3 linked regions of the Homo sapiens genome follow. The protein of the gene in region 1 purifies or fractionates together with the protein of each later gene. This does not show direct contact. Each region holds a gene or a part of one and is shown in the gene's direction. Other genes may lie near its edges.

What was found.
Region 2: the proteins of COL4A3 (region 1) and UNC13A fractionate together in Homo sapiens (co-fractionation; one large-scale study listed by BioGRID). This does not show direct contact.
Region 3: the proteins of COL4A3 (region 1) and OTUD6B fractionate together in Homo sapiens (co-fractionation; one large-scale study listed by BioGRID). This does not show direct contact.

What each region holds. Positions count from the first base shown.
Region 1 is NC_000002.12:227,282,770-227,286,841, forward strand, and holds part of COL4A3 (collagen alpha-3(IV) chain precursor), read left to right. Parts: intron 1-997; coding exon 998-1,087; intron 1,088-1,441; coding exon 1,442-1,576; intron 1,577-4,072. UniProt on the Homo sapiens protein: Type IV collagen is the major structural component of glomerular basement membranes (GBM), forming a 'chicken-wire' meshwork together with laminins, proteoglycans and entactin/nidogen.
Region 2 is NC_000019.10:17,639,855-17,643,354, reverse strand, and holds part of UNC13A (protein unc-13 homolog A), read left to right. Parts: intron 1-394; coding exon 395-510; intron 511-1,798; coding exon 1,799-1,962; intron 1,963-2,693; coding exon 2,694-2,844; intron 2,845-3,446; coding exon 3,447-3,500. UniProt on the Homo sapiens protein: Plays a role in vesicle maturation during exocytosis as a target of the diacylglycerol second messenger pathway.
Region 3 is NC_000008.11:91,080,344-91,083,843, forward strand, and holds part of OTUD6B (deubiquitinase OTUD6B), read left to right. Parts: intron 1-325; coding exon 326-387; intron 388-3,500.

The sequences.
Region 1 (4,072 bases):
ATAATATACTTGCTAGTATTTTGTTGAGAATTTTTGCATTTATATTGAGAAGGGATATTGGTCTGTAGCGTTCTTGTGATGTCTTTGGTGTTGGTGTCAGAGTAATGCTGGTCTGATGGAACAAGCTGGGAAGTGTTTCCTCCTCTTGTATTTTCTGGAACAGTTTGTGAAGAATCGACGCTCTTTAAACATTTGGTAGAATTCACCAGTGAAGTTATCTGGGTCTGGGCATTTCTTTTTGGGAAGTCTCTAAATGACTAATTCAATCTCTTCATTTCTTATAGGTATATTCAGGTTTTCTATTTCTTCTGGAGTCAGTTTTGGTATTCTGTTTCTCTAGAAACTTGTCCATTTTTATAAGTTATCTGATTTGTTGTTGTTGTTCATCATATTTCTGTATAATTGTTTTAATTTCATGGCTATGTTTATTGTTTATATGTTTGGGGAGAATATTCTGTTCCCTCATGGCATAAGGACCTCACCGATCTCCCCTCTGGAAAAGAGCCTAAAACAACTTAATCGACACATTATCCTTTCATTCATGTTATTGGGCTACTATCACATGCCAGCATTCTTCTAGGCCCTAGAGACACATCAGTCAGTGGACAAGTCTCCCCTTCTCATAGTAGAGGATCAATAATAGAAATATTTAAAATCTAAGTTCAATTTGAGACAAGTGTTATGAAGAAAATAAAGTGAAGGGATAGAATAGAAAGTGACTGGTCAGGGGCTGGGAGGATGGAATGCTCCAAAACTTCCACATATGCTATCCTCATCCATGAATATGATTTGCTACCAATCACTTCCACATAGGTGAGTTTAAAAGACCACTTACCGACCCATCTCCTAGACTAATACAGTAATTGTACTATGTACAGAGGCCATTTTTTCAACTCCCAATCTCTGCTTCTAAGTATAATTTATTTTAGTATATGGAATATTTTGCTTTTCTCACTCTGTACAACACGTGCTGCTTTGTGTTAATTTGTTTCCATAGGTGAAGATGGAGTGATTGGGATGATGGGCTTTCCTGGAGCCATTGGCCCTCCAGGGCCCCCTGGGAACCCAGGCACACCAGGGCAGAGGGGTAAGTGATAGAGTGTCTTTCTAAATAGCAGGAAGCATAAACAATGTTCATTTATTTTGCAGCAAAAAAAGTTATGTTTCATTGGAGGGAAAAATAGTTCTGAGAGAGCAACAGTATTTGATTTTGCTGTTTTCTATGTTCCTTTTCTCCATTTGAATGGAATCCTGTTTTCTGTAGGCTTACACCACTACCCTTATGAGGCTGCCTGCCTGGGGAAACTATTTATCAAGTTCTCAGCACTGTTAGCCTTTTTTGTTTGATTTGTTCTGTTTTATAGTAAGCACTGCCAACTTTTTAATCCCTATGAACTACCTGAAGAATTAAGGACCTGATGTTGTTACTCCTGTCTGTTAGGGAGCCCTGGAATTCCAGGAGTAAAGGGCCAGAGAGGAACCCCAGGAGCCAAGGGGGAACAAGGAGATAAAGGAAATCCCGGGCCTTCAGAGATATCCCACGTAATAGGGGACAAAGGAGAACCAGGTCTCAAAGGTAAAGAATTGCTTGTTTGGAATCAGGACATCAGAGCTGATTCTCAGGCTAATAAATTATCCAGGCAAATCCGTTTGGTTGACAAATAAGGACAGTGAGGGCCAGTGTTTAGTTACCTGCCCATCACACAGCCGGTTGGTGGCTGAGCAGGCCTTAGAACTGAGTCACCTTCCACGACATGTTGCCTCCTCGATGTGTAACATTTTTATTTCTAAGTTAATTCTGCATTTTAATTTGCTATATTTAAATCATCAGCAGTCAGTTTTTAAATTATAAGCCTCAAAACTCCCTCTTTGCCAAGTATGGGGAAAATTAAACCCTTAAAAAAATTCCACATTAAAAAACTTTTCTGGCTGATGTTGAAACCTCCATCTCAAATTCAACTTTATTCTGTAGACTACCAGAATAATATTTTCTGATTCTATCTAAAAACTTCTTCTCCTGTTCAAAATCCTTTGGAGAATAATTACTAAAAAGAAATGCTTCAATGAAAATTTAACCCTTTAGAAAGACTGTTGTTAGATGTGGCTACTAGGCTAAAATTCAAACCCATTCACATTATTTCAAGTTATTTGGGCCCTTTTTATGGCAGTTTTCATGATATGATCAATACGACCAATATAAAACCAAATTTTCAGAAGCCCTCCCTTGCAGTCTTCTTGACCAAATGTAATCCCAAGCAACTTTAGAAAAACAGAGAACTGCTGGGTAAAATATTACATTTGCAGATCAGACTCTCATAGCAGGAAAGGAATAAAAGAAAAATGTATCATGGCAAGAAAGGAAAAAAGAAAAATGTGTTTGCAGTTGCAAAACCATGTTAAGTTTTGAGATATTTGAAATGACTTTTGAGAAATGAGACTGTGTTCAACAAATATTTATATGCATGGCACATGAGGATGTAACAAACCTTCACATGTACTGCCAAACCTAAAAAAAAAAAAAAAAAAAAAAAAAAATTTGCACAGGGTGCTGTAGACTACAATATAAAGGCTGACTAACTGGCAAGTTAGGAAGTAAAGGCCTTCTATGTACATAGTCCTCATCTAACCTGGTGTTGAAGAGACACTTTAGTTCTGGTACAAAAAGAATATTGCATTTCATTTTTAGCAATGAAAAAGAAAGTAATGCGACTTTTATAAAACTCTGCTAGGACTAGTCTAAGCCAAGATATGAAAAAAAAAAATACTGGCACCAATCTCCAGTCCTCATAAACTGTCTGCATAGACACCACTTCACTAGACTATTTTAGATTATTTAAGTAGTGTTAGAAACATTTTGGAAAAAATATGAATAGCATATCTCTGCCTACATAAGCAGAAATTTGGCGCTCACAGTATAAATGCGCAGTGAGTACTAATTTGCAATTGAAGAATTCCTTTTGTAAAGTACAGAAGGACACATGATATGGGGCTATTTCTATACTTCCAACAAAACTCTTTTACTCACCCTAAGTACAGTATGCATCGAGGCTGTTCTGTATGTTTTCTTTAGGCTTTTCAAATGCATAACCAAGGGACACAGATTGAAGAACAACAAAAAAATAACCTGTATCTAGGCCTCCCTAATTTCAATATGATCCATTTATTTTTCTAAATCTGAATTTCTGACTTAAAGCTATTCACTTCAAATGTGGAAGAGATATTGAATATACAGAGAAGCACAATAACAAGTCACTATCCTCTCCACAAGGAGGCTGCGTGGCAGACTTAGGCATATGTAGAAAAAGATAATAAAGACGCGAGGTGCAAATTAGCATGCTATATTATTTAACAACGACCTAAGTAGCATTTACCATGTGCAGGTACTGTTCCAAGTTTTACAACTATTGACTCATTTAATCCTCACAATAACCCTAGGAGTAGGCTGGGCACAGTGGCTCACGGCTGTAATCCCAGTATTTTGGGAGGCCAAGGCGGGTGGATCACCTGAGGTCAGGAGTTCGAGACCAGCCTGGCCAACATGGCAAAACCCCATCTCTACTAAATATACAAAAATTAGCCAGGGTGGGCGGGGTGGGGAGCCTGTAATTCCAGCTAGTCAGGAGGCTGAGGCATGAGAATCGCTTGAACCTGAGAGGCAGAGGTTGCAATGAGCTGAGATTGTGCCACTGCACTCCAACCTGGGCAACAGAGTGAGGCTCTGTCTCAAAAAATAAATAAATACATAACCCTAGGAGTAGGTACTACTATTGCAATCATCCCATTTTACATACGGGGAAATAGGGAGGTCAAGTTACTTGCCCAATGACACTCTGATAGGAAATGGCAGAGATGGGCCTCACTCTTGGCCTCCTCACTGTGCTGCCAGAGCTCTGTAGGAGTTGAGGGAAGTAGAAAATACAGCAACTAAGATAGTCAGTGAAACCTCCATAAAAGAGGACTTAAATGTTGAATAAGATTCAGATGAACAAATAAAATTCTTGGCTTAAAATCTTTCCAAGGCTCCCTGTGCTTTGAGAAGTGAAACTTCTTGGACTGACATACAAGTTTATTC
Region 2 (3,500 bases), on another chromosome or scaffold:
GATCTCAAAAAAAAATAAAATAAAAAAAAATTTGCCCATGGCTGGCCGGGCGCGGTGACTCACGCCTGTAATTCCAGCACTTTGGGAGGCTGAGGTAGGTGGATCACCTGAGGTAAGGAGTTCGAGACCAGCCTGGCCAACATGGTGAAACCCCGTCTCTACTAAAAGTATAAAAATTAGCTGGGCACGGTGGCAGGCACCTGTAATTCCAGCTAGTTGGGAGGCTGAGACAGGAGAATCGCTTGAACCCAGGAGGTGGAGGTTGCAGTGAGCTGAGATCGTGCCACTGCACTCCAGCCTGGGTGACAAGAGCAAGACTCCCTCTTAAAAAAAAAAAAATTGCCCACTGCTATAGTGGGAAGTTCTGACACTGTCTTCTTTTTCTGCCCTGCAGACAAGCGAACTGACAAATCTGCCGTGTCGGGTGCCATCCGGCTCCACATCAGTGTGGAGATCAAAGGCGAGGAGAAGGTGGCCCCGTACCATGTCCAGTACACCTGTCTGCATGAGGTGAGGGTCATTGCTCGGCCCCTCCCATGCCACTTCCACTCACCATTCCTGCCTGCCCAGCTCTTCCTCTTTCTGGCCACACCATCCACACTCTCCTGGCCCTCTGAGACTGCCCGCCATGCCATTCCCTTTACCTGGAAAACTCCTCCCTATCCATCAAAGTCCAGATTCAGGGTCACCTCCTCTGGGAAGCCCACCTTGGCCTCCAGGTTGACTCTCACTACTCATCATCAGGTTCTTCCTTCTATTCCAGCCCTAACCACTCAGGATTGGGCCGTTTGTGTCTGGGTATGTCTCTTCCAGCTGCCTGGGTTTCCTGGAAAGAACTCTTATCCCCAGGAACTAGTTTGTTGAATAAATGCTGGTGAATGAATGAATGATTGAACAGATGAATGAGTGATGAGTAGATAAAAGGATGGATGGAGAGATGGGTGAGTACATGGATGGATAGATGGATGAGTTGGTGGGTAGATTCGTGGCTAGATGGATGATGGATGGATGGACAGATGGATGGATATATGATTGAACTATTGAAAGTATAGATGTATGGATGGGTGAATTTGGGGGTAATTGTTAGATGATGGATGAGTATAGATGAATGATGGATGGATAACTTGATGAGTGGATAGATAGATTGCTGGATAGATGATTGACTGGGTGGATAGATGAAATGTTGGATGAGCAGATTAAGTTGTATTGGATGGGATGGATGGAAGTGTGGTTGAGTTATTAGAAGGAAGATTGAGTAGATAGGTGAATTTGTTGATAGTCAGATGGGTAGATAGGTAGATGGATGGATGGATGGATGGATGTATAGGCAGATGGACAAATGGATGAATGGGTGGGTGGATGAATGGAAGGATGTGTGGTTGAACTATTGCAAGTATTGATAATTGGGTTCATAATTTCTGAATATTTAGATGGATGGTTGTGAGTGGCTGGTGGACAGACGAAAAATGGATGGTTGGATAAATTGATGGGTGGATGGATGGTTGGTTGTATGAAAGAATGAATGATTGGGTAGGTGGATTAAGTTGCGGATCAATGTATGGGATGGATGAATGGATGGATGGATGGATGTGTGGTTGAATTACTGAAAGGTTGGAAGAGTGGATGGGTGAAATTTGGGGTAGTTAGATGGGTGGGTGTGTGGATGGATAAAAGAGTAGATGAATGAATTAATGAATAAACAGGCAGATGGATGATGTAAGCTGCCCCAGACCCTGGGACCTCTGACCCCCGGCGACCCCTTGCACTCTCCATGACACTTTCTCTCCCATGGTGGCAGAACCTGTTCCACTTCGTGACCGACGTGCAGAACAATGGGGTCGTGAAGATCCCAGATGCCAAGGGTGACGATGCCTGGAAGGTTTACTACGATGAGACAGCCCAGGAGATTGTGGACGAGTTTGCCATGCGCTACGGCGTCGAGTCCATCTACCAAGCCATGACGTGAGACTGCAGGCTGGGGTGCAGGAAACAAGAGGGAGGTCACCAAGTGGGCACTGGCAGGTCTGGGGTGGGAGGGATTCTCAGGGGGAAGACCCAGAGAGGAAGTGGGCGTGGTGGTGGTGGGTTCCGTAATTCCCCTGGAGATCAGGAGAGCGCTGTGATTGACACCTGGAGTGACATGGAAGAGAGGGAAGACTTAGAAGCAGAGATAGAGGCTGGGCACAGTGGCTCAAGCCTGTAATCCCAGCATTTTAGGAGGCTGAGGTGGGCGGATCACTCCAGGTCCAGGAGTACAAGACCAGCCTGGCCAACATGGTGAAACCCCATCTCTACTAAAAATACAAAAGTTATCCAGGTGTGGTGGCTTGGGCCTGTAATCCCAGCTACTCGGGAAGTTAGGGTGGGAGAATTGCTTGAACCTGGGGGGCAGGGGTTGCAGTGAGCCGAGATTGCGCCACTAAACTCCAGCCTGGGTGACAGAGTGAGACTCCATCTCAAAAAAAAAAAAAAAAGAAAGAAAGAAAAAAAGAAGCAGAATTAGAGCAACTCAAATGGATATAAAGATGGAGGGGAGAGGAGATGCGGAGACCCAAAGGACAGAATCAGGCAGGGGATGGTTTAGGAGGTGACAGAGACCCACTCACAGATGCTATCTTGGAGGCATTCTAGGGGGGATCTTGGTCCATCCTGGCTGGACCCCTGGCCTAGTGCCTCCTGCTCCCTCTCTCCAGCCACTTTGCCTGCCTCTCCTCCAAGTATATGTGCCCAGGGGTGCCTGCCGTCATGAGCACCCTGCTCGCCAACATCAATGCCTACTACGCACACACCACCGCCTCCACCAACGTGTCTGCCTCCGACCGCTTCGCCGCCTCCAACTTTGGGGTCAGTCCTGGGGACTGGGATTGGAGAATTAGGGAGAGCCCAACTTTATGCCGGTCAGATCTGATGTGACTTCTGGGTCCCCAGTCTAGACCTGATTGCTGTGTGACTTTCCACCAGTCACTTCCCGTCTCTGAGCCTCCATTTATTCCTCTGTAGAATGCTATAGAATGGAGGTCGGGCGCAGTGGCTCATGCCTGTAATCCCAGCACTTTGGGAGGCCGAGGCTGGAGAATCACTTGAGGCCAGGAGTTCGAGACCAGCCTGGCCAACACGGTGAAAACCCGTCTCTTCTAAAAATCCAAAAGAAAATTAGCTGGGTGTGGTGGCCTGTGCCTGTAGTCCCAGCCACTTGGGAGGCTGAGGCAGGAGAATTGCTTGAGCCTAGGAGTCGGAGGTTGCAGTGAGCTGAGACTGCGCCACTACACTCCAGCCTGGGCAACAGAGCAAGACTCTGTCTCAAAACAAAAAAAAAAATGCCATAGAATGGAAATGGACATTATGAGGGTGGTGGATGAGGTATACTTACTGTACAGTAGGCGCTCAGCCACTATGGCGGCCATGTCCTGCCTCCATCCATCCTCCCTCCTCCCCTTCCTCCTCAGAAAGAGCGCTTCGTGAAACTCCTGGACCAGCTGCATAACTCCCTGCGGATTGAC
Region 3 (3,500 bases), on another chromosome or scaffold:
AGATAGTGAATATGGTGGCAATTTTTGGGGTCAACGCTTGGGGTAGAGTGAGGTAGGTTTGTTATATAGGGAGGGTATCTGGGCCTCCAACAGAAGAAGAAAAGCAGAAATGGACTGCTTTGTTCTTGGATGGAAATGTGGTAGAAAGTTGGGGTGAATTAAGTTTGGACCTGGGAGTTAGATTAGATTCTGGAGGATAATGGTAGAGAAGGAGAATGTTCATAACTTGGGCATTTTTGTCAGGAATTGTGGGAACTATAAAAGGGATTTTGTAACATGAGTTACAAAAATTATTAAGTGCTGTATTCTGACCTAATCTCTACAGAAGAATTTCAGAAGTACTGTGAAGATATTGTAAACACAGCTGCATGGGGAGGTCAGCTTGAGGTAAGTTTGTAGTTATTCATAGTGATTGTGGGTTGTTAAATTATTTCTAAATCCCTTCTGTAGTTTTTAGATGTTTCTCAGCTGATCCCAATTTCTCTTTGAAGATTCCTTTTCTTTATATATTTGCTCTTCTCAACTGACAAAGAAATAGGGAGTTAACATGATTAGGTCTGTGATTAAAGTATGTATGTTGAGGGATTGAAACACTATTACATTTTAAATAGCTCAGTGTTAGATCTGTGTGTTAGAAATACATATGTGTAAGTCTTTTCATCGTGATAGTAGTATTGGCAATACATTTGATTTTCTGGACTTAGGAAAATGAAAATTTTACTGAAGTAAAGTAAAATTTAGCCTAGTAGCTCAGCTGATCAAAGTCACTATTGGAAAAATATCTTTTTTACATCAGAAATGGAAAAAAAAAATTATGTGAAATTATAGGCCAAATCCTACCACAACATATATATTAAAATCGTATTTTGAATTCCTAATTGATAGTGACTGACTTACTTGAAAGCAGTAGTTGGTGCATTAAATTCATATGTAAGAAAACAGTATGTTCAGTCACTTACAGGAAGTTATCAAGATTACTTTTTAGCTCTAATTTTAAAAAAATCTTACTGTTAACTTTGTTTTGTTAAAAACAAACAAACAAACAAAAAAAACAGGTAGGTAGGCCAGATGGTGATGAAGCAGCCTGGGTATTAAATAGGATAAGAAAGAAAGTTCTGGGTTCAGGTCCTGGCATTTTCTTCCACCCCTCTGTTTTGTGGCCACAGGGGAGTCAGCCATCCTCCCAAGCTTGAGTTTCTTGATTACTATATGGCCATAATAAACCCTCTCTGTGTATTCAGTTGAGCATTTTTGAGCATTAAGTAAGGCAGAGAGTACCTGCATAAAAGTTTGTAAGCTGAAGTGCCAGATGGATGAACCTAGGCAGTACGATTAGTAATATATAATGATGATTAATCATCATGAATAGTCTGTGGCTCTAAATAATTCACTTTAAGAACTGCTTCATTTGAAGATGCAACATGAATGTTGCCCCAAAATCTTTTTCTTAGTACTGCTGTGTATGTGCATTTCCACCAGAGGGAACTGTATCCATTAGTTTTGTATGCCTCGGAAACTCAGGAAATGTTCATAGTAGCTTTGTTACTACTACATTAGGAATAATTAAAAATGCTTGAACTTTCTTAAAAGGATCATTCATATGAGTATTAGAGATTAAATCAAGAAATTAAGAAAAACCTTTTAAAACATCTTTTGAGGGACACTTATACATTTTTTTCATCTGTGAATTCATTTGAAGTAAGAGTTGCAGTTTTCACAATAGAGTAAATTTAAGTTATTAAAGAAAATCATTCTATGATCTCTGAAGTTAGAAGGCATAGTAGGATTCCCAGAGTTTGGTTCGCATCCTCTATTCTATGCTAGTTTCTTAAAAATGATATTTTAGGTATAAGAAAAATGTACCTCAAAGGAACGTTTTTGATTTACCACCATGCAGCAGAGTGCTTTCCATATTTTTGAAGTAATTTCTTAAATTCTTTCAAAACCTCAGGAAGGAGTATGTTCATCAATGGAATGTTCTTGTAATGGGGCAAGTACATATCCCATAGTGCCCCCATAGATCGGGGCATTATGATTTTTACTTTCTTTTTGAGACAGAGTCTCACTCTGTCACCCAGGCTGGAGTGCAGTGGTGCCACCCATCATTGTTCACTACAGTCTCAATCTTCTAGGCTTAAGCTTTCCTCCCACTCCTGAGTAGCTGCACCACCATGCCTGGCTAATTTTTGTATTTTTTGTAGAAACGGGGTCTCCCTGTGTTGCCCAGGCTGGTCTCGAACGCCTGAGTTCAAGTGACTTTGACAAGTCTTGTAACCCTTTTTTTGCCTCAGATTCTAGGTCTTTAAAATAACGACAGTACCCATCCCATAAAGTTATTGAGAGGATTAAAGGAATTAATACACATAAAGTACTTAAAATGCTTGAGTGTTTGGTCATATGTCTTTTTTTTTTTTTTTTTTTTTTTTGAAACAGGGTCTCACTCTGTCACCCCAGTTGGAGTACAGTGGCGTGATCTTGGCTCACTGCAACCTCTGCCTCCCGGGCTCAAGTGATCCATCATGCCTGGTTAATTTTTGTATTTTTTTGTAGAGACATGGTTTTACCATGTTGCCCAGTCTGGTCTCGAATGCCTGGACTCAAGGTATCTGCCTACCTTGGCCTCCCAAAGTGCTGGAATTATGGGTGTGAGCCACTGTGCCTGGCCCGTAATCATAATAAGTCTTTAAAAATGTTAGCATTAATGTTCAATATTCACCATTATTCATCTGGCTTTAGGCTCTAATTTTATATTGTATGGTATGAAATTACTTAAAATTGTATATTTTAATCAAATAGAAATTCATTGATAGGGCAGTACAATTCATATACATATTCTACTCTTTGAAAATTATAGAACAGTGGTTGTCAACAGTATTTGTAGATTAGAATCATCTGAAAAACTTTAAAAAAATAAATATTTTGTTCTTCCCCCTGCCCATTTTCTCACATTGTAATTTATTTGGTCCGGTGCTTGAGCAATGGTATTTAAAAATTTTTTTTGTTATGAACATTTTCAAGCGTATTCAAAAGTAGACTAGTATAATATACCTAGTCTACCCATTGCCCCTCTTCATTAACTGTGGCATTGATATTTTTTACAAAGCTTTTGTGCAGGCAGGGCTTGAGCAGTCTCTGCATTTGATTTAATAAATACAAGTTGAGCATCCCTAATCTGAAAATTTGAAATTCGAAATGCTCCCAAATCAAATTTTTTGAGGGCTGACATCACAAGTGGAAAATTCTACACTTGACTTTATGTGACAGGTCACAGTTCAAACTTAGTTTCATGCACAAAGTTATTTAAAATGTATAAAATTACCTTCATGGTGTGTGTGTAAGATATGTATGAAACATGAATGAATTTTGTGTTTAGATTTGAGTCCCATCCTCAAGATATCTCATGTAGTATATGCAAATACTCCCAAATCTGAAAAATTCAAAAACTAAAACAATTCTGGTTCCAGGCATTTAGGATAAGGGATATTCAACCTGTATTATAT